Linked DNA regions of Homo sapiens: region 1 is linked to region 2. Evidence: fine-mapped expression QTL. A gene starts in region 2. The other region holds a variant in brackets. All regions are shown on one strand. Distances are from middle to middle.

Region 1 (9,513 bases), 57 kb after region 2:
CACACACACACACACACACACACACATATTTCTTTTGCCTTGTCTCTTCCTCCTTCACTGCATGGAGTTAAGATCAGTATACTTTTCACTATTTGGGAAAATACAAATTATCACATTTTTAAAATATACAGCCAGATACTCTTTCTAGGCAATAAAGACCATTAAAACATTTCAGTCATTTCAATCCACAATTAGTATTTAAGGAATTCATATCAATTTTAATATCTGCCTAAGTAATAATATAACGGGCAAGTTTTAAAAATATGTTTATGTATTGTTTCCTTAAGCTCAGTGGCAAGAACATCATTTTTTAAATCAAAAAGTATATCCCAAAGTCTAAAGAGAAGAGAACAATGACTGTTTGCATCTGTTCAATAATCCAGACATGACTTAACTGAATAGACTGACCAAAACTAAGATAAGTATTTATTCTCAAATTAAACATAATGCATTATTAATAAGGCTCTCCAGAATTTTTCTCAGCACTTTTCAGTATTCTGAAAGGACTCAATACTGCTACTTATATTTTTCTAAGTACAAAAATATTAGAATCCAATCTTCTTACGTCTTTCCATTGACCCAAGCTATTACAATACTTCCCCAACTGAAGTCCATCTGAAAACCTATCCTGTTTTAAGGTAATGAATCACAATTATTCAAGGTGAGAGAAACTGCAGGGGGCAGTATAAGCATGATTTCCAACATAATTCTTAAGATTTAGGAAAATTCTTCCTGTTAGTGTAAGCTTAACCTTAAACTATTAACATGTATTTCAATCAAAGAGTCCATAGAAAAGTTAATTGTTAAAGATAATTGAAATTCTTCCACAAATTTAATAATCAAAAGTTGAGGCCAGGCACAGTGGCTCTCACCTGTAATCGCAGCACTTTGGGAGGCCGAGGTAGGTGGATCACCTGAGCTCAGGAGTTCAAGACCACCCTGGTCAACATGGTGAAACCCCATCTCTACTAAAAAAAAAAAAAAATACAAAAATTAGCTGGGTGTGGTGGTGCATGCCTGTAGTCCCAGCTACATGGGAAGCTGAGGCACAAGAATCACTTCAGCCTGGGAGGCAGAGGTTGCAGTGAGCCAAGATCGCACCACTGCACTCCAGCTTGGGCTACAGAGTGAGAATCCATCTCAAAAATATATATATATATAAAATAAAATAACTAAAAGTTGAGGTGTGGGATGCTCTAAAGTCACTTGGGGAAGAATTCTATGCTACCATTATCCTTATGACTTATTCCAATCAAAAATAATAGAACAAGAAATTTTTTTCCTTTAAATTCATATCCACACTCTTAAAAAAACACAAGTTATCCAAAACTATAAGTCCACTTACTCAGGAGAAACTCATTATTTCAAAATGTATTCTTATCATTTTTAAGTATAAATAAGTAAATCCCTTAAAAGTCAGATTCAACACTAGGGGAAAATAGAATGAAATATTAAACATGATATATAAGTATGACTTAGGAAAATTAAAGTTATTCTAAGATAAAAAGAGAAACTTAATTTTATTCAGTTTTGCATTCATGGTTGCCATTCTAGTATATTCTCCAGCTACTCAATAACCTTCTTTCCCAAACCTATGCTGATTCCATGCAAGTAATTTCCAACTAACAATTGAATTAGTTAAGTTAGATGAAGCCCTCTTTGTGTGTCTGTTTTGAGTAAAGGTAACATTTGGTGGTAAATACATCTATCTTCTTTCTTATGTCATTTTTCTCCTCTGATCCTCAACATATAATTAAACTTTCTTTGATGCTGTAAAACTTGTCATTAATAGTTACCATAAATATTCATCTCATACATACCACTTCCAAAGCACCTCATAACTGTAATAATTGCTAACAGTTATGGGTGCTTACTACGTACCACACACTGTTCTAAGAGACTGTCCTGTATTAGTCATATATGAACTCAGTTAATCTTCACAACTCTGTGAAGTGGGAATTATTATCCTCATAAATAGGGAAACTGAGTCAAGGACAGACTGTGCCACACCCATGGACACATGGCTAATGACTGGTAGAGCTGGCATGAAATGTATCAGTCATATTAGGAGGGCATCACACATCCCCATGTAAGATTCAATAGAACTAGGTGCTCACCATATTCTTTCACCTTCCTTGACTACATTAGGACCAATCTGACATTACCAAGAGAAATTAAAATCTACAAAGCATGATCAAAAGCTCAGGTCCACAATTAAGCATGAGAATATACAGAAAACACGGCTAGGACTTTTGGTAAACACCTGGGCAATTTTCACAAGGAAAGGCATGAAAGGGTGCGTGCCCTGGTATGAGCGCCTGAATACAAGGGCCACAACCCAGTCAACCTGGAAATGTCGCCTTTAACTATCATCTCCTCCCTCAAACTCATCATTGTTTCGTCATCATGTCTTACTTGATTCCCTAAGGAGTATTCTCAACCAGAAAAATATTTTTCACGATAATCCTCTCAACTGATAGATACAAATCTATCTTCTCCAAGTTCGAGCAGCAAGTCAATCTTCTGAAGACCTCAATATCCCCTGCACAAATTCATCAAGGGTCCAAATCAAGAGAACTGAGAGGACCTCACTCTAGAGTATAAAAAATTATGGCAAACGTGAGAGCCTCCCCACTCAATTATTCGATGTCCACAGTAAACTGGGGACAAACCTAACCATAACACTGGGACAAGGCACACTTCACAGCACACAATTTCAGGGTATATATCTAACTGTTAGGTTCGTGAAGAATCTTCCCCTTCTACTTTAGGCACTTCTAGACAGTTGGAATTTATTTTTAAACAACAGAACATACATCACTTTTTGGGGGTTAACTTCAAGGATTTTCCTACTGAAAATGAGAAACTTCAGTATCCAGTCACTAACTTTTGTATTCATGAATCTCACAAAAAAAAAAAAATCAAGAAAAGGAAGGAATTTAACCAACTTTCATATTACTCAGAAAAGTCACCAATGAAAACAACAATATCATAGGCTTCTTCATAACTGTGCTAATATTGGTGGGCAACACTGGTCATATAATTTATGGTTGACTAACTCAACAGTTTCATGTCATTTAAGAACAATAAAGATAAACTCACAAGTATTTTCAATAAAACAGAGAAAAGAAATACCTCAAGTTCCACCAGTGCTGCAGTGACTGCGTCAGTTGCAAGAGCACCCGCCTGCAGCTTTTCAATTGCCTATGAAACCAAGGGGAGAGATTATTCATTGCAAAATCACAACTTCCCAAACTTTCCAAAAGCTTAAAGAAGTATGGGAGACACTTAGATTAATAAAAATTGACCACTAGTTCCATTCCATACTTTAAGACATAAACTACTCAGATTAAAAACAAGCAAGTGTTTATATTCAGGTTAATTGGTAATATGGCTCACTTAATATTATTCAAATTAAAACAATAACATCTAGCTATTAAATGAAAAGTACAAGGAATTTAGTAAGCTTAATTCATTGTAAGGCTATTCAAAATAGCCACAGAAATTGTATGACCCAGTTTGGTTCAAATATCCTGACAATTCGTATTTTATATAGATAACTAAATCTCAAACGAATCATTTCTCCTCCCCGTTAATACTCTCCATACCTAAAAAGAAGTGACTCTGAGTCACAGGGGCGCCGGAATCTGAGGATAAAAGCACACATTTGACAAAAACATTTTGGATACTATAATGTAAATTCTAAATCAAGATGTAACATATTATTTTGTAATATAAACTACACAGAATAAAGGTCTATAAAATCACCTGGCCTTGAGCATAAATTAGGAGAGGAAAAGAGAGAGAAGGAAAAGTCATTTATAAATGATTTATTAACATTTCAATTTAGTCAACAAAGAGAAAGCTCAAAAACTAAGAACTGTATTCCTAATTAAACTTTTAAGAAGTGTATTCATTGGAAATATTAAAGAGGCTAAATATACAATTCAAATGTATTAAATTTCTAAGACTATAGTTACATAAAATTTATTTTCAGATGATAGAAAAATTTCACACTTTGAAAAATAAGAAAAAATATAAAACAGCTTAGAGAACTTTTAGCTTTATTGTTATAAATTTCAAAAGAACAAAATCCCTGTAACAAAATATTCTTATTTATAGGGCTTCATTCATAAGAAAAAGCTTGAATCTCTGATAAAGTATAATCTTTTTAATGTTATGTAAATATCAACGAAAAGAGCAGAGAGAGACGCATATTTACTCGATATACAATATTCAACTAGATCCTATTTGCATAAAAAGTAATGGAAGGTTTGCCTACAAGACTAGTAAGAATCAAAATAAAAAACATTTCTTCTGAGTCCATTCCTGTCCCCACATTAAATATTCAACAGTTTAGCAAAACCTCAAAAACCAATGGGAAAAAAGCACAACTGAGTACAAGGGCAAAGCTGAACTCTGGAATGACAATGAACTTGCTATGATACAAACTACGTGATGAAAAACAGAATGAAAAAGTATAGGACAATCTCTCTTAAAAAAGCACCCATTTTAATTTTTTTATTTATTTTTTTCCCTTCATGGAAAAACACACTGACTGCCTTCAAGCTGTTTTCTCTATCCTTCTGTCTACAGAAGTTCAACATCGTTGCAAAGATTAAAAGAGATATGATTGTGTGCCCACAATTACAAAAATACAGACTTTAATCTGGGACGTGGGGAAAGAGCTAAGCATCATGTGGAGAAAGACACAAAACAACACAAAACGATCCCCTACAAAAACAAGCAAAATAATTTTGTAGTCCAAACCGGAAGACTGCCCTAGAAATGAAACTTTTAAATGTTGAATTTCTTTTTTTTTTTTTTTTTTTTGGAGTTGCATACATTTTTTTAATCCAAAGAAGTCAGCCTCCTAAGTATTGCTTAAACAGGTTTATCAGAATTAAGTAGGCACGACACTCATACTTTCAGAAAAGCATTTGCAGCCAGGGGAGTAACGTGGCACTCACCAGCATGATATCTGTTTTGCCAACTTGCTGAGGAACGAGTAACCTGAAATGAAGAAGCGAGAATCTCATCCTCAGCCCCCCAACAGCTTCCTCAGCTTCTTTTTATTCTGAGTCACTCCCTGAAACAGTCGCTGCATCTAAGACCAGCCTCGGGCTAAACCCAGCTGGCCTGAAGGCTCAACTCACATCAAACAGAGCTGGGAGTTGCTTTTGCGTGTGTCCGCAGTTTGAAGTGTCCTCTCCGAAGGTGAAGTGGAGGAAGCAGGTGCGCTCTGGGATGAAGTGCAGGGAGGCAAACTCTGGCTGGGTTCCTGTAAACATCCATGGCAGTTGCAAATAATGAGAAGCCGAGGCCAGGCCATCGGTGTGACGCTGCAGGCAGATGAGGTCTTGGGACGCCCC[T/CT]TGCGTTCCCCCTTCTGTGGGAGCAGGTGCCTTCCCAATCTCAGCACTCAGTCCCAATCTCTCTTCCACTCTCCTGGGTCCAAACAGGAACCTCTCTGTTGGCACGAAGCTTTTGAGGGTAGCAGGCAGGCCTCGGAGGCAGGGGAGGGTCTCCTCCTGGGGAACCATCCCCGTCCAGATGGTGCCCCCAACCAGCTGCTGCGGCGCCATGATCTGGGCGGCTGGTCCAGGGCGTGGGTTGCGGATCGTGGAGGGAAGAGGGGAACGGCAGTCGAGACCCTACTCCAAGTACCCATCAAAGACGTCGAGCTCCGAGTCAGCATCGTAAAGGCCCGAGCCGGGGTCGGAGAGCACGCCGAGGTCCACGAGCGCCTGGTCCATGTCCTCGAACAGGAAGACGAGGCCCACGTTGAGGACGATGTACTCCATGAGGAAGGCGTAGTACAGGATCAGCACATTGACGAAGAACAGGCCCACGTAGAACATAGAGGGCAGCAGCGGCGGCGGCACGTAGGGGACCAGGGGGCCCAGTGCGTCCAGGTGGGCCGCGACCCGGGCGCCGAGCATGCAGCCGGTGGCAAGGGCGGCGGCGGCCCGGCGATCCCGGCGAACTCAGCCGCTGTGGCGCCCGGGCCGCCGGCGAGGGCACAGCGCAGCCATCCAGGGGTACCCTGGAGCCCGACAGAAGCAGGGCCGGGCTCCAGATGTCCCCTGGCAAATGCGCCCCGACCCCCGAAATGCGCCGGGCGGGTCACCGCACCCCGAGATGTGCCCCCAAGGCTCTTTCGACCGCCCTGAAGTGGCGGGCCCCCCTGAAGTGGCCGGCGGCTGCCCGGCTCCCTCGAGGCGCCTCCCTGGCGCTCGCAGGGCCTCGCAGAGCCGGCGGGGATCCCACCGCGGCTCAGTGTCTAGGGCCGGTCCCGGCAGCCCTCTCTCCCGCCCGGCCCCGCAGGTCCTAGCGTCGCCCTCCCCCCCGCGCCCCTGCAGGCCCAGCACCCATGGCTGCGGCCGCGGCGTCGCCCTCCGAGTCGCGCTCAGAGCCACTGCTTTATGTTCAAAACTGAAAAGCATAGATGATACACATTGCGTTGATACTCTCTGACAAGCTCGTTTGCATACATGTTTATATTCCTTGGCTTTGGATTCAGAATGATAAACTGCACCTATAGTAGAAAATAAAATCCAGTTGTTAATTGTTAAAATATCAAGAGACCTTGCTTATGTTATATAAATACTCCAATAAACTGATGCTGTCCTAGTAAAAAACAAAACTATTGCCCTAACTGTATGGAGTTTTATGATTTCTTTCTCCAATGTAAGCCTTTTTAATACCATGCCTTATCTCCGTTTTCAAAAGCTCTTTTCCTGCCAAAAGCCCTAAAAATAGCTCATGTCCCCAGAGGCTTCACCAAGGTCACCTCCCCTCTTCTTTTCAAGAAGCTTTTTCCAAATCAGGAGTTCTTTTGATCTGGAGCTAACAACCCAGAAGGTGTCAGGGACAGGGTCCCTCCAGGTTCCTCTCTGCTGAAAGCCCCTGCCATTTGGGAAGTTACTGTTTCAAATCCAGAATTCATAAGAATAATTCAGAAAGCTGGATTGCTTCTGAACAACATTGGAAGTTGAGGCATCTTACATCTCACATGTCCACAACCACCACCAATTGCACCATTCCTAACCAAACACTTCACGTCCTCTCAATAAAGTTGCTAGATTAGTCTCATTTCTTAAAAAGCTGTTTTTTGACAAAATGGGAGAAAATTTTCGCAACCTACTCATCTCACAAAGGACTAATATCCAGAATCTACAATGAACTCCAACAAATTTACAAGAAAAATACAAGCAACCCCATCAAAAAGTGGGCAAAGGATATGAACAGACACTTCTCAAAAGAAGACATTTATGCAGCCAAAAAGCACATGAAGAAATGCTCATCATCACTGGCCATCAGAGAAATGCAAATCAAAACCACAATGAGATACCATCTCACACCAGTTAGAATGGCGATCATTAAAAAGTCAGGAAACAACAGGTGCTGGAGAGGATGTGGAGAAATAGGAACACTTTTACACTGTTGGTGGGACTGTAAACTAGTTCAACCACTGTGGAAGTCAGTGTGTCTAGATCCTCAGGGATCTAGAACTAGAAATACCATTTGACCCAGCCATCCCATTACTGGGTATATACCCAAAGGACTATAAATCATGCTGCTATAAAGACACATGCACACATATGTTTATTGCGGCATTATTCACAATAGCAAAGACTTGGAACCAACCCAAATGTCTAACAATGATAGACTGGATTAAGAAAAGGTGGCATATATACACCAACGAATGCTATGCAGCCATAAAAAAATGATGAGTTCACGTCCTTTGTAGGGACATGGATGAAACTGGAAACCATCATTCTCAGCAAACTATCGCAAGGACAAAAAAACAAACACCGCATGTTCTCACTCATAGGTGGGAATTGAAGAATGAGAACACATAGACACAGGAAGGGGAACATCACACACCGGGGACTGTTGTGGGGTGGGGGGAGGGGGAGGGATAGCATTAGGAGGTATACCTAATGCTAAATGACAAGTGAATGGGTGCAGCACACCAACATGGCACATGTATACATATGGAACTAACCTGTACTTTGTGCACATCTACCCTAAAACTTAAAGTATAAGAATAATAAAATTTTTTTAAAAAGTTGCTTTTTGGTAGTTTATATGTAACACTGTAGTTCTATATGTACTTGCAAATAGCTATAGTACCAGTAAAAAATGTGATAAAATGAAACTCACATATGCCAAAAATACTTTGATTTAGCGCTTCATTAAGTGCATGATTATCTGCATCTTTTGATTTACCTATCTTTACAATTTTCAGCTGAGATACTTAGAGGTCACATAGTAAATTAAGGTTTTCTTTTTTTAAAATAATCTCCATCTTTCTAAATTTGGTGAGTCCAGTAAGTTATTTTTGAGATGTTGAAATCTGTGGCTTTGTTCTAAACTTGAGCACAGAAATCATGCCACTTACGAAATATGCTTTGTCTTCCAACATCAGAGTGTCTGGTAGAAGGTGACTGTTCTTGGAATTTAAAAAATCTTAACAGGAAAAGACAAGAATCTGGACACTTTTTCTGTTTCTGATAATATGGCTGAGTAGGTAGACATGCTGGCTAGTCCTTGCATAGATCAAGACATACTTGAACTTGCCAAAAAAAATAAAAAATCCAGAGTCTCTAAGAATGAAGATGAAGTGAAAATCAGAAGGGCTATTGAGAGAGTAATGGGGAAGCAGCCCCAGTTATCAAGGGACGTGTGCATGTGTTCATTAAAAAGTTTCAGATGTAAAAAAAGTTGAGAAAAATAATGTAACTGCCCTACATATACACATCATCAACAATTTTTCATTCATGGCATGGACAGTTTTTTGTTTTTGTTGGTTTTTTGTTGTTTGTTTTTAAAGGTGGGATTTTGCTGTGGTCGCCCAGGCTGGAGTGCAGTGTCATGATCTTGGCTCACTGCAAATTCTGCCTCTCAGGTTCAAGCGATTCTCCTGCCTCAGCCTCCCAAGTAGCTGGGATTACAGGCACCCGGCACCACATCCGGCTAACTGTTGTATTTTTAGTAGAGATGATGTTTCACCACGTTGGCCAGGCTGGTCTTGAACTCCTGACCTCAGGTGATCCACCTGCCTCAGTCTCCCAAAGTGCTGGGATTACAGGCGTGAGCCACCACACCTGGCCACAGCCAGTTTTGTTTCATTTATATTCCCACTTCATTTATATGCATTCCTTCTTCCTCTGAATTATTTTGAAGTAAAATCTATACATCATATCATTTTTTAATTACCGTATATGTATCTGCAGAAGACAAGGAATTTTTAAAAATAAATATATTCACAATGCCATTAAATACCAAAAAAATTAATATTCTGAAAATAGCCACAAATCCAGAGTTCACATTTTCTTGACTTTCTCATAGGTGATTTTTCTTCTAGGTTTTCTATTTAATCAGGTAACTGTTTGCTCATATTTACATTCCTTACTGAACAATGTCTAAACTTAAACTGACATAAAACGCACATGATCTTCTGACCAAATGCTTAGTGCAAGAAAAAACTTCAAACTGCAAGACGAGTCC
Region 2 (9,513 bases):
GGTGGATCACGAGGTCAGGAGATCGAGACCATCCTGGCTAACACGGTGAAACCCCGTCTCTACTAAAAAAATACAATAAATTAGCCAGGGGTGGTGGTGGGCGCCTATAGTCCCAACTACTCGGGAGGCTGAAGCAGGAGAATGGCGTGAACCCGGAAGGCGGAGCTTGCAATGAGCCGAGATCATGCCACTGCATTCCAGCCTGGACAACAGGGCGAGACTCCGTGGCAAAAAAAAAAAAAAAAAAAAAAAAAACACACAGAAAAACTTAGACTCCACTTTCTCTTGTGAACGTAAGTACAAAACTACCAAATGAACTAGGAGCAAACCCATCTCAACCATATATAATATGGTATTAATCATTTATCACAACAAAGTTGATTTAATTCCAAAATGCAATGTTCAACATTCAAAAGCCAATCACTGTTAAGTTACCTTATCAACATAAAAAGATAAGAAAAAACACTGCTCAATCAAGAAAGAAAAAAGCAATTGATACAATTCAGTACCTATTCATAAATCTTAAAACCTGTGTAACAGAGAGGAAGCAACATGTGAGTTAAACACTCCCCCAGCTGAGAATAGTGACATAACTTATTTGCAGCCAAAAGATGAAAATTGCAGGCCAGGCGCAGTGGCTCATGCCTCTAATTCCAGCACTTTGGGAGGCAGAGGTGGGCGGATCACAAGGTCTGGAGTTCAAAACCAGCCTGGCCAACATGGTGAAATCTCGTCTCTACTAAAAATACAAATAGAAATGAGTCGGGCGTGGTGTCATGCGCCTGTATTCCTAGCTATTAGGGAGGCTGAGGTAGGAGAATCACTTGAACCATGGAGGCGGACATTATGACAGTGAGCCGAGATTGTGCCACTGCACTCCAGCCTGGCAACAGAGCAAGACTGCGTTTCAAAAAAAAAAAAAAAAAAAAGGATGAAAATTGAATTGCAGTATAATTTTACAACTTTTGAGAAATCTGTGTTTTTCAGCTAAAAAGAGACAAACTCAGCCTTTTGACCTTTCATCTTTCCCTCCTTGGAAGGCAATCCAAGGCCTGGAAAAACAGCAGCCACATTGTGACCACAAGAATAGAAACCAGGCTAAGGAAGTATCAGGAAACTGAAAAGAACCCTGGACTGCCTTCCTCTGCACGTTTTAAGTGACAAAAATGAAATCTATATTTCTTTAAGTCACTGAATCAGATTTATTCTTTCTGTGGCTACATGTAGCCCTAAATGATGTATTAAATACTAAAATAAATACTAAAATACACACTAAAATACTAAAATTTTGGTCTTGACTCCTGATCTCAGGTGATATGCCCATCTCAGCCTACCAATGTGCTGGGATGACAGGCATGAGCCACCACACCCACCTCAAAAGCTTTGTGTTTTAAAATATATTAGACATATCTCTAGTTTAAAAAAAAAAAAAACTTAACAATAATGTAGGAGAATAAGAGAAACTTTTTCCAAAAAAGAGAAATCACTGTGATTATTTTATCTTATTGGAATGTTGGATAATATAATCTGCTTTACTAATCATTAAGCACGCTGTAAATTTTCCATTACAACAGGATTTGTACCTCAACTAAGGTGATAAAGTTTTAAAGTTTAGAAAGTGAGTCCCTCTCCCTCTCCCTCTCCCTCTCCCTCTCCCCACGGTCTCCCTCTCCCTCTCCCCACGGTCTCCCTCTCCCTCTCCCTCTCCCCACGGTCTCCCTCTCCCTCTCTTTCCACGGTCTCCCTCTGATGCTGTGCCGAAGCTGGACTGTACTGCTGCCATCTCGGCTCACTGCAACCTCCCTGCCTGATTCTCCTGCCTCAGCCTGCCGAGTGCCTGCGATTGCAGGCGCGCGCCGCCACGCCTGACTGGTTTTCGTATTTTTTTGGTGGAGACGGGGTTTCGCTGTGTTGGCCGGGCTGGTCTCCAGCTCCTAACCGCGAGTGATCTGCCAGCCTCGGCCTCCCGAGGTGCCGGGATTGCAGACGGAGTCTGGTTCACTCAGCGCTCAATGGTGCCCAGGCTGGAGTGCAGTGGCGTGATCTCGGCTCGCTACAACCTCCACCTCCCAGCCGCCTGCCTTGGCCCCCCAAAGTGCCGAGATTGCAGCCTCTGCCCGGCTGCCACCCCGTCTGGGAAGTGAGGAGCGTCTCTGCCTGGCCGCCCATCGTCTGGGAAGTGAGGAGCGTCTCTGCCTGGCTGCCCATCGTCTGGGATGTGAGGAGCCCCTCTGCCTGGCTGCCCAGTCTGGAAAATGAGGAGCGCCTCTTCCCGGCCGCCATCCCATCTAGGAAGTGAGGAGCGCCTCTGCCCGGCCGCCCATCGTCTGAGATGTGGGGAGCGCCTCTGCCCCGCCACCCCGTCTGGGATGTGAGGAGCGCCTCTACCCGGCCGCGACCCCGCCTGGAAGGTGAGGAGCGTCTCTGCCCGGCCGCCCCGTCTGAGAAGTGAGGAGACCCTCCGCCTGGCAACCGCCCCATCTGAGAAGTGAGGAGCCCCTCCACCCGGCAGCCGCCCCGTCAGAGAAGTGAGGAGCCCCTCCGCCCGGCAGCCACCCCGTCTGGGAAGTGAGGAGCGTCTCCGCCCGGCAGCCACCCCGTCCGGGAGGGAGGTGGGGGTCAACCCCCGCCCGGCCAGCCGCCCCGTCCGGGAGGGAGGTGGGGGGGTCAGCCCCCCGCCTGGCCAGCCGCCCCGTCCGGGAGGTGAGGGGCGCCTCTGCCCGGCCGCCCCTACTGGGAAGTGAGGAGCCCCTCTGCCCGGCCAGCCACCCCGTCCGGGAGGGAGGTGGGGGGGTCAGCCCCCCGCCCAGCCAGTCGCCCCGTCCGGGAGGTGAGGGGCGCCTCTGCCCGGCTGCCCCTACTGGGAAGTGAGGAGCCCCTCTGCCTGGCCGCCACCCCGTCTGGGAGGTGTGCCCAGCAGCTCATTGAGAATGGGCCATGATGACAATGGCGGTTTTGTAGAATAGAAAGGGGGGAAAGGTGGGGAAAAGATTGAGAGGTTGGATGGTTGCCGTGTCTGTGTAGAGGGAGGTAGACATGGGAGACTTCTCATTTTGTTCTGTACTAAGAAAAATTATTCTGCCTTGGGATCCTGTTGATCTGTGACCTTACCCCCAACCCTGTGCTCTCTGAAACATGTGCTGTGTCCACTCAGGGTTAAATGGATTAAGGGCGGTGCAAGATGTGCTTTGTTAAACAGATGTTTGAAGGCAGCATGCTCGTTAAAAGTCATCACCACTCTCTAATCTCAAGTACCCCGGGACACAAACACTGCAGAAGGCCGTAGGGTCCTCTGCCTAGGAAAACCAGAGACCTTTGTTCACTTGTTTATCTGCTGACCTTCCCTCCACTATTGTCCTATGACCCTGCCAAATCCCCCTCTGCGAGAAACACCCAATGATCAATTAAAAAAAACAAAACAAAACAAAACAAAAAAAAACATTATATTATCGACTATACCTTAAATTATAATAAAAAGTTATATATGTAAAAAAAAAAAAAAGTAAGTGAAAGCCAGCCCCGCCCCTCTCCCAGAGTGGGCGGGGACAGCAGTTCCATGGGAGGCTTTCCTTGTGACATCACAGGACCTTCATGACCCGCAGCTGCCTGGCCCCGCCTCCTTTCCCTTTCATCTTTCTCATTGACCAATGGGCTTGGAGCATTAAGGCCACGCCCCTTTTCCGCATTCTAGTGCAGCCCCGGTGACGCCTCCTGTGGCTCAGTCACATAGCTGTGTGGTACGTGACTGGAGGCATATCACTGTCCTCGCCTGGATCACGCCAATGTGACCCCAACCCCACCACCCTCCCCACCCCATGATGTCCGAAAAAACCCAACAAAGAAAATTGGCTGGGACCAAGAAAAAGGTAAAACGCATCGGATTGCAGCACCCCAACCCCAACCCAGCCCCAGGTCCCCTCTGATGGCAGAACAGCTGCCAGAATCCGTGTCACTCCAGAGGCACGCAGGGCCGGGCCCCCCCCAGTGCCTCTGGGCTCCCCCAACCAAAATCTTGTGTCAGCCCCAACCCCTCAGCAGTCCTGCCCCTGCCCTCACCGGTCACCCCAGGGTGACTTTCAGCCGGTGACTCGTGGGGCTCCCTGCTTTGTACTCTGCCCTCACCTCCTATTGTCCAAAAATGGATCTCCCTGGGCCCTTCGGGCTCACGTTCCCAAGGAACCGGATGCCCCAGCACCTGCCCTCACCAGTCACCCCAGGGTGACTTTGGGCAGGTGACTCCTGGGGCTCCCCACTCCATACTCGGCCCTCACCTACCGCTGCCCCAAGCCTGACTTCCCTGGGCTCTTTGGGCTCACGTCTCCAAGTACCTGGGTCCCAACCCTGTGACCCCATGCCAATCTCAAAGAGGCAACTTGGGCACAGCACTGATGGGATAATGGGTTTGGTTTGGTTTTCTCCCAGGCTTCTACTCTCCAGAGAGACTTTAACAGTTTTTTCTAAGTTCTCCACTTCATATTTGAATTCTCCATGGTTCTGGGACCAGAGTGCCCATCAGTCAGTGATCTTTGAAGTGAGATTTGCTCATCTTCTGTGCAAGAGATCTTGGGAAACTGGACTTGACAACTTGAATCTTCCTCATCTCATCTCAACCTGGGGTACTTTGAGTGCCACAGGATACATATGGGGCATCTTTCTGAAGCATCAGTTTTCCTTGATTCTCGTGGGAGACACAAAACATTAATGTTCTTAGGGATGATAGTCACATAGATTTCAAAGAGTATACAAGACTTCTCTCTGAAATGCAGCTTGGGTTGTCCTCTTTCTGTTTAATTCCCACATTTAACAGAAAGGCTGCCTTCTGCCCTGAGGATACATGACTCTAAGAGGATGTACGACTGTAAACCACACAGTGTACACCTTCCTGCCTACTTTTTACTTTTCTACCTCTGCCTCTGGTTTTGGTCTCTGGCAGCTGCTGATTTGTGGCAACACCCCAGAGCTCAGAGTCAGAAGACTGAGTTTCAGTTCCATTATTGCCTTTCTTTTAGCCATGGTATCAATCCCTCTCAGTCACTAAGTGATTGCGACAACACCTCGTACAGTCGTTGGTGGCATTAAGTCAGATCGTCTATGAGAGTATTTTGTATAAACTGTAAAGTGACTGTAGGAGCTTGTAGTTCTCATGAGTATCACTGCTCCTCTTTTCCACAGTTTACAGACTATCATCAGTGGAACAGTGCTGGTGTTGGTACCGGAGCAACCGACACCAAAAAGAAGAAAATAAATCATGGCGCTAACCCTGAGACAACCACTTCGGGGGGCTGCCACTCGCCTGAGGATGTGAGTCTTGGCTGGCCGGTCTCCTGAGGACAAGGGGCACAAGGGGGAGGTCGAGGGTAACTGTTAAGATTGTGGAAGGAAGAACTGCTGGGTACTGGCTAAGAATTCTGGGTTTGAGTCCTACTTCTCTCTCCAACTGCGAGGGACACGGTTTAGGGAAAATTGCTCGAGCTCTTTGGGCCTCTCTTTTCACATCTGTAAAATGGGGATGGTAATGTTTTACTTACATGTGTGAAGCTTAAATCAGATTTGTTGCTGTTGTTTTTGTGTTAATCCCTAGTCCAGGGCCTGCTGTAAGCTCCCCTCCTCTTTGGGCTTCCGTTTCCTGAGGAGGTAGAGTTAGAGTATCAGAGGTTCTGTTTGCTCTGAGAGTCTGAGATTTAAAGATTCACTAGAATGGAAACCTTGGGGCCAAGGGCTCCTGTCTGCCTTTTCCGTCCTATATCCCAGCAGTGAAGAACCGTCCCCGGCCCCTATGTGCTTGCTCAATGCTTGTTGAATGAACACATCTTTCTCCATCACAAGCTGGCAGAAGGGTGGGCTTTTCTCACACTCTTATGTCGGAAGGTTTATGTTACTGTCTTTTCCAGAGAATCTAGTTTCAGACTTTCAGTTCTGTGGCTGTGGGCAAAAGCCAACAAAGACCCAAATCCTTTTTCTTTGGGCGTTAAGGAAAGTTGACCAGTTTGTGTTCCCATTGGGTCTGAGAACTTTGCCCTTAAAATCCATTCCTGACCCCTGCCTACCGCTTCCTGGCCTGGGGAATAGAGTCGAGGGACCACCCTCAGTCACCTTCCTTTGACTCTCCCCACAGAAACAACAGAACCGAGCTCAGCTGAAAGAGGTAACATGGTTTCTTTCTTTGCTCACGACATGACCGCTGGGTTTGGGGGGCACTCAGATGTAGAGGCCCCAGTCTCGTCTCGCCTACTCCCAGCTTGGGGAGGAAGGCTCACCTCCCAGCTTCCACCCCATCCCCACAGGGTCCCTGATAACCTGGTCCCATGGGTGGGCCTGTCCTGGGACAGTGGGGCCATTCTGGGGGCATGTCTCTTGCTGTGCCATCTCTGCCTCCCTCTAGTAAGAGCTCTGTCTTCCTCTTCTTTTCTATAGGAAAATAAGGCAAGCCACCAACATCAGCAAGCCCTAAGGAGGCAGCTAGAGGTGAGTGGAGGGTGTGAAGTTCCCTCCTGTCCTCTGGAGAAGGTTTCTTTGCTTCTCTTTCAGCACTTGCTTTTCTTGTCTCCCAAAGGCCCAGGATCATACCATACGAATCCTTATGTGTCAGAAAACTGAACTGGAGACAGCGCTCCATGACAGCCAGGATGCTGCCAGGAAATTTGAAGGTGGGAATCTGGGCACCCCGTCATCCTTCAACCTGGCACTTTCACAGGCCTTTGGGCTGCAGCTCAACCTCTCTCATTCCAGAAGATTCCAAGGATCTGGCAGCCCGCCTGCATCATTCCTGGCACTTTGCAGGAGAGTTACAGCGGGCTCTCTCTGCTATGTCCGCAGAGCACGAGAGGGCGGACAAGGTGAGTCCAACCACCTACCCGGTCCCCTGGGAGCCCAGCTTCGCAGATGGAGGAATGAGCCTAAAGGTCCCTTCTGCAGGATGCAGTGTCCTGCCCAGAAGACAGCATGGGCCATTTCTTGCTGCTTTTGTGCGTGGTTGTTAGAGGCAGGTTGGGGCTGAGTCAGCTGCTGTGGGTGAGTTGCGGGGCGCTGTGGGGAGCGAGCACTGGACACAGAGCTCGGAGGCCAAGTGCCCACCCCACCCATACTTGGCTGTGGCCTTGGTCAAATCCTAGGCGGAGTTGAGGGTACTTGTACCATGAAGGTACAGAAGAGTATCTTTAGTATGTTACCATTTGTGTAGAGAGAGGGAACACATGTACGTGTGTGTGTGTGTGTGTGTGTGTGTGTGTGTGTGTGTGTACGTACGTATTATGGTAATATACATAAAACATGTTTGTAAGGATTCATAAAAAACTCAGGAGAGAGGAACAGTGTTGGGGGAAGATATTTCCCTTCTGTACCTTCTGAGGTTTGGACTATGCCAATGTATCATTCTTTCAAAAATCAACAAAGGATTAATTTCCTCCTCCTTATCTGTGCCCCTACCCCCAACCAAAAGAATGGGCTTAGAGAATCAGATATACCTGGGTGTTGAAATCCCAGCTCTAAGTGATCTTAGGCAAGCACTTAACCTTTAATACCCCATGTTTTTCATCTACACAATAGAGGTGATAATGATAACTGTCTCCTGTGGTGGCTGTGAGGATTAAATGGGATTGTTAGCATAGTGCCTGGTGAAGCACTCAAGAAAGGTTCCAACAGTGGTAATAATAACAGTAATAGCAATAACAATATTATCTGATCGCTCTGGGCCCCTGTTAGCCAGCTATCAATTCAGTCTCTTTCTCTGTGCCTTCCACCCTTACTGAGTTCTCCGAAAAACAAGTGAGAGCCAGGTGCAGTGGCACATGCCTGTAATCCCAGCTACTTAGGAGGCTGAGGCAGAAGAATCGCTTGAAGCCGGGAGGCGGAGGTTGCGGTGGGGTGAGATCGCGCCATTGCACTCCAGCCTGGGCAACAAGAGCGAAACTCCATCTCAAAAAAAAAAAAAAAAAGAAAAGAAAAACAAATGACACCACGGGTTTGGAAACGCCTTGAGAACATGTCGGGTGTGACGGAGAGGAGCAAGTGTTACTGTGGAGTATCAGTGTAGCTGTCGTTACTGGTCGTCCAGCTGCTCCTCTGCCTGCTGTATCCTGACTTGACCTTTCTCTGTTTGCAGTACATCAAGGAGTTAACAAAGGAGAGGGAAGCCATGAGTCTGGAGCTGTTCAGGAACATGTAGGATAGGGGAGGGGGGGATGGGAGGTCTGAGAGCCCTTAGCGTGGGTGGTGTGCTGGGAGGTGGGGGGTACAGGTGAGCATGGTAGGGGGTCATACAGGTTTACATGTGTGTGCAGGGAAGCTCCAGTGCCGGCTGTGCCACTGACTCATGGGGTAGCCTCAGGCAACTCATGTCTTCTCTCTGGCCTGCCACCTGGGACTTTTAATTCCTGGGGTCCCTTCCAGTGCCACGGTTCTGTGGTTGTGGGGCGAGGGTAGAGGGTCGATCACCAAAGCGGTCCTTTCTGTTCTTCGTTCATTCCTTTCTCTACTGCCTCCGGCCATAGCATAACCAATAAGGAGCTGAAGGAGAAAAATGCCGAACTACAAGAAAAACTTCGACTGGTAGAAACTGAAAAGTCTGAGATCCAGCTCCACATCAAGGAGCTAAAAAGGAAACTGGAGACGGACAAAATCCCGCTGCCACAGGTGAGCGGCGGCAGCCCCGGGGGTGTGGGAGCCGCATCCGGCTGGGACATGGTCTAGGGATCATGCAGGGTGTGGGGAGGCTCCAGCCAAGAGCTGGAAAATTTGGGTCCTTGTTCTGGTCCCACCACAGAATCCTCTAGAGTGTGCTAAAAATCTACAAATTGGGACCATGCCTGGGAAATCAGAACCTCAGGGTTACGGCTTAAAATTTCTTTTTAAAGAATCATAGACGAAAACCGTTATTTTATAGATTACATTTATATACCTAGCTTATGACTCTATTTCCTTTTGAGGTTCAAACCAACACTTTGCAGGAGAAGATGTGGAGGCAGGAGGAGGAGCTACGGGATCAGGAGGAGCTACGGGATCAGGAGAAGCTACGGAAGCACGAGGAGAAGATGTGGAGACAGGAGCAGAGGCTGCGGGACCAGGAGAAGGAGCTGCGGGAGCAGGAGCAGCAGATGCAGGAGCAGGAGGAGCAGATGCGGAAGCAGGAGGAGCAGATGCGGAAGCAGGAGGAGCAGATGCGGAAGCAGGAGGAGCAGATGCGGAAGCAGGAGGAGCAGATGCGGAAGCAGGAGGAGCAGATGCGGAAGCAGGAGGAGCAGATGGGGAAGCAGGAGGAGCAGATGGGGGAGCAGGAGGAGCAGATGCGGAAGCAGGAGAAGCAGATGCTGAAGCAGAAGGAGCAGATGCGGAAGCAGGAGGAGCAGATGTGGAAGCAGGAGGAGCAGATAGGGGAGCAGGAGGAGCAGATGCGGAAGCAGGAGGAGCAGATGTGGAAGCAGGAGGAGCAGATAGGGGAGCAGGAGGAGCAGATGCGAAAGCAGGAGGAGCAGATGTGGAAGCAGGAGGAGCAGATGGGGGAGCAGATGAGGAAGC

Alleles and levels. Alleles are on the strand shown, and positions count from the first base shown. SD is a standard deviation of normalised expression in the study named.
For the expression in adrenal gland of the gene that starts at base 3,721 in region 2, allele CT in region 1 goes with a lower level than allele T (small effect, 0.29 SD a copy in GTEx).

What was found.
Region 1: its variant is fine-mapped to the expression of GOLGA6L7 in adrenal gland (GTEx, PIP 0.95).

The regions. Positions count from the first base shown.
Region 1 is chr15:28,785,625-28,795,137 of GRCh38, reverse strand. It overlaps the pseudogene LOC100289656 and the pseudogene PDCD6IPP2. Among named protein-coding and RNA genes, the nearest start is that of GOLGA6L7, 58 kb to the left of the region's middle. The variant T/CT (reference allele first, on the strand shown) is at 5,373.
Region 2 is chr15:28,842,852-28,852,364 of GRCh38, reverse strand. GOLGA6L7 (golgin A6 family like 7) reads left to right here and starts at 3,721. Exons shown (of 9, transcript NM_001365371.2): 1 at 3,721-3,866; 2 at 5,173-5,301; 3 at 6,116-6,145; 4 at 6,415-6,465; 5 at 6,554-6,647; 6 at 6,730-6,836; 7 at 8,102-8,160; 8 at 8,490-8,631; 9 at 8,925-9,513. The coding sequence starts at 3,816. It also overlaps the pseudogene PDCD6IPP2. RefSeq lists a silencer at 3,453-3,587 and an enhancer at 7,339-7,885.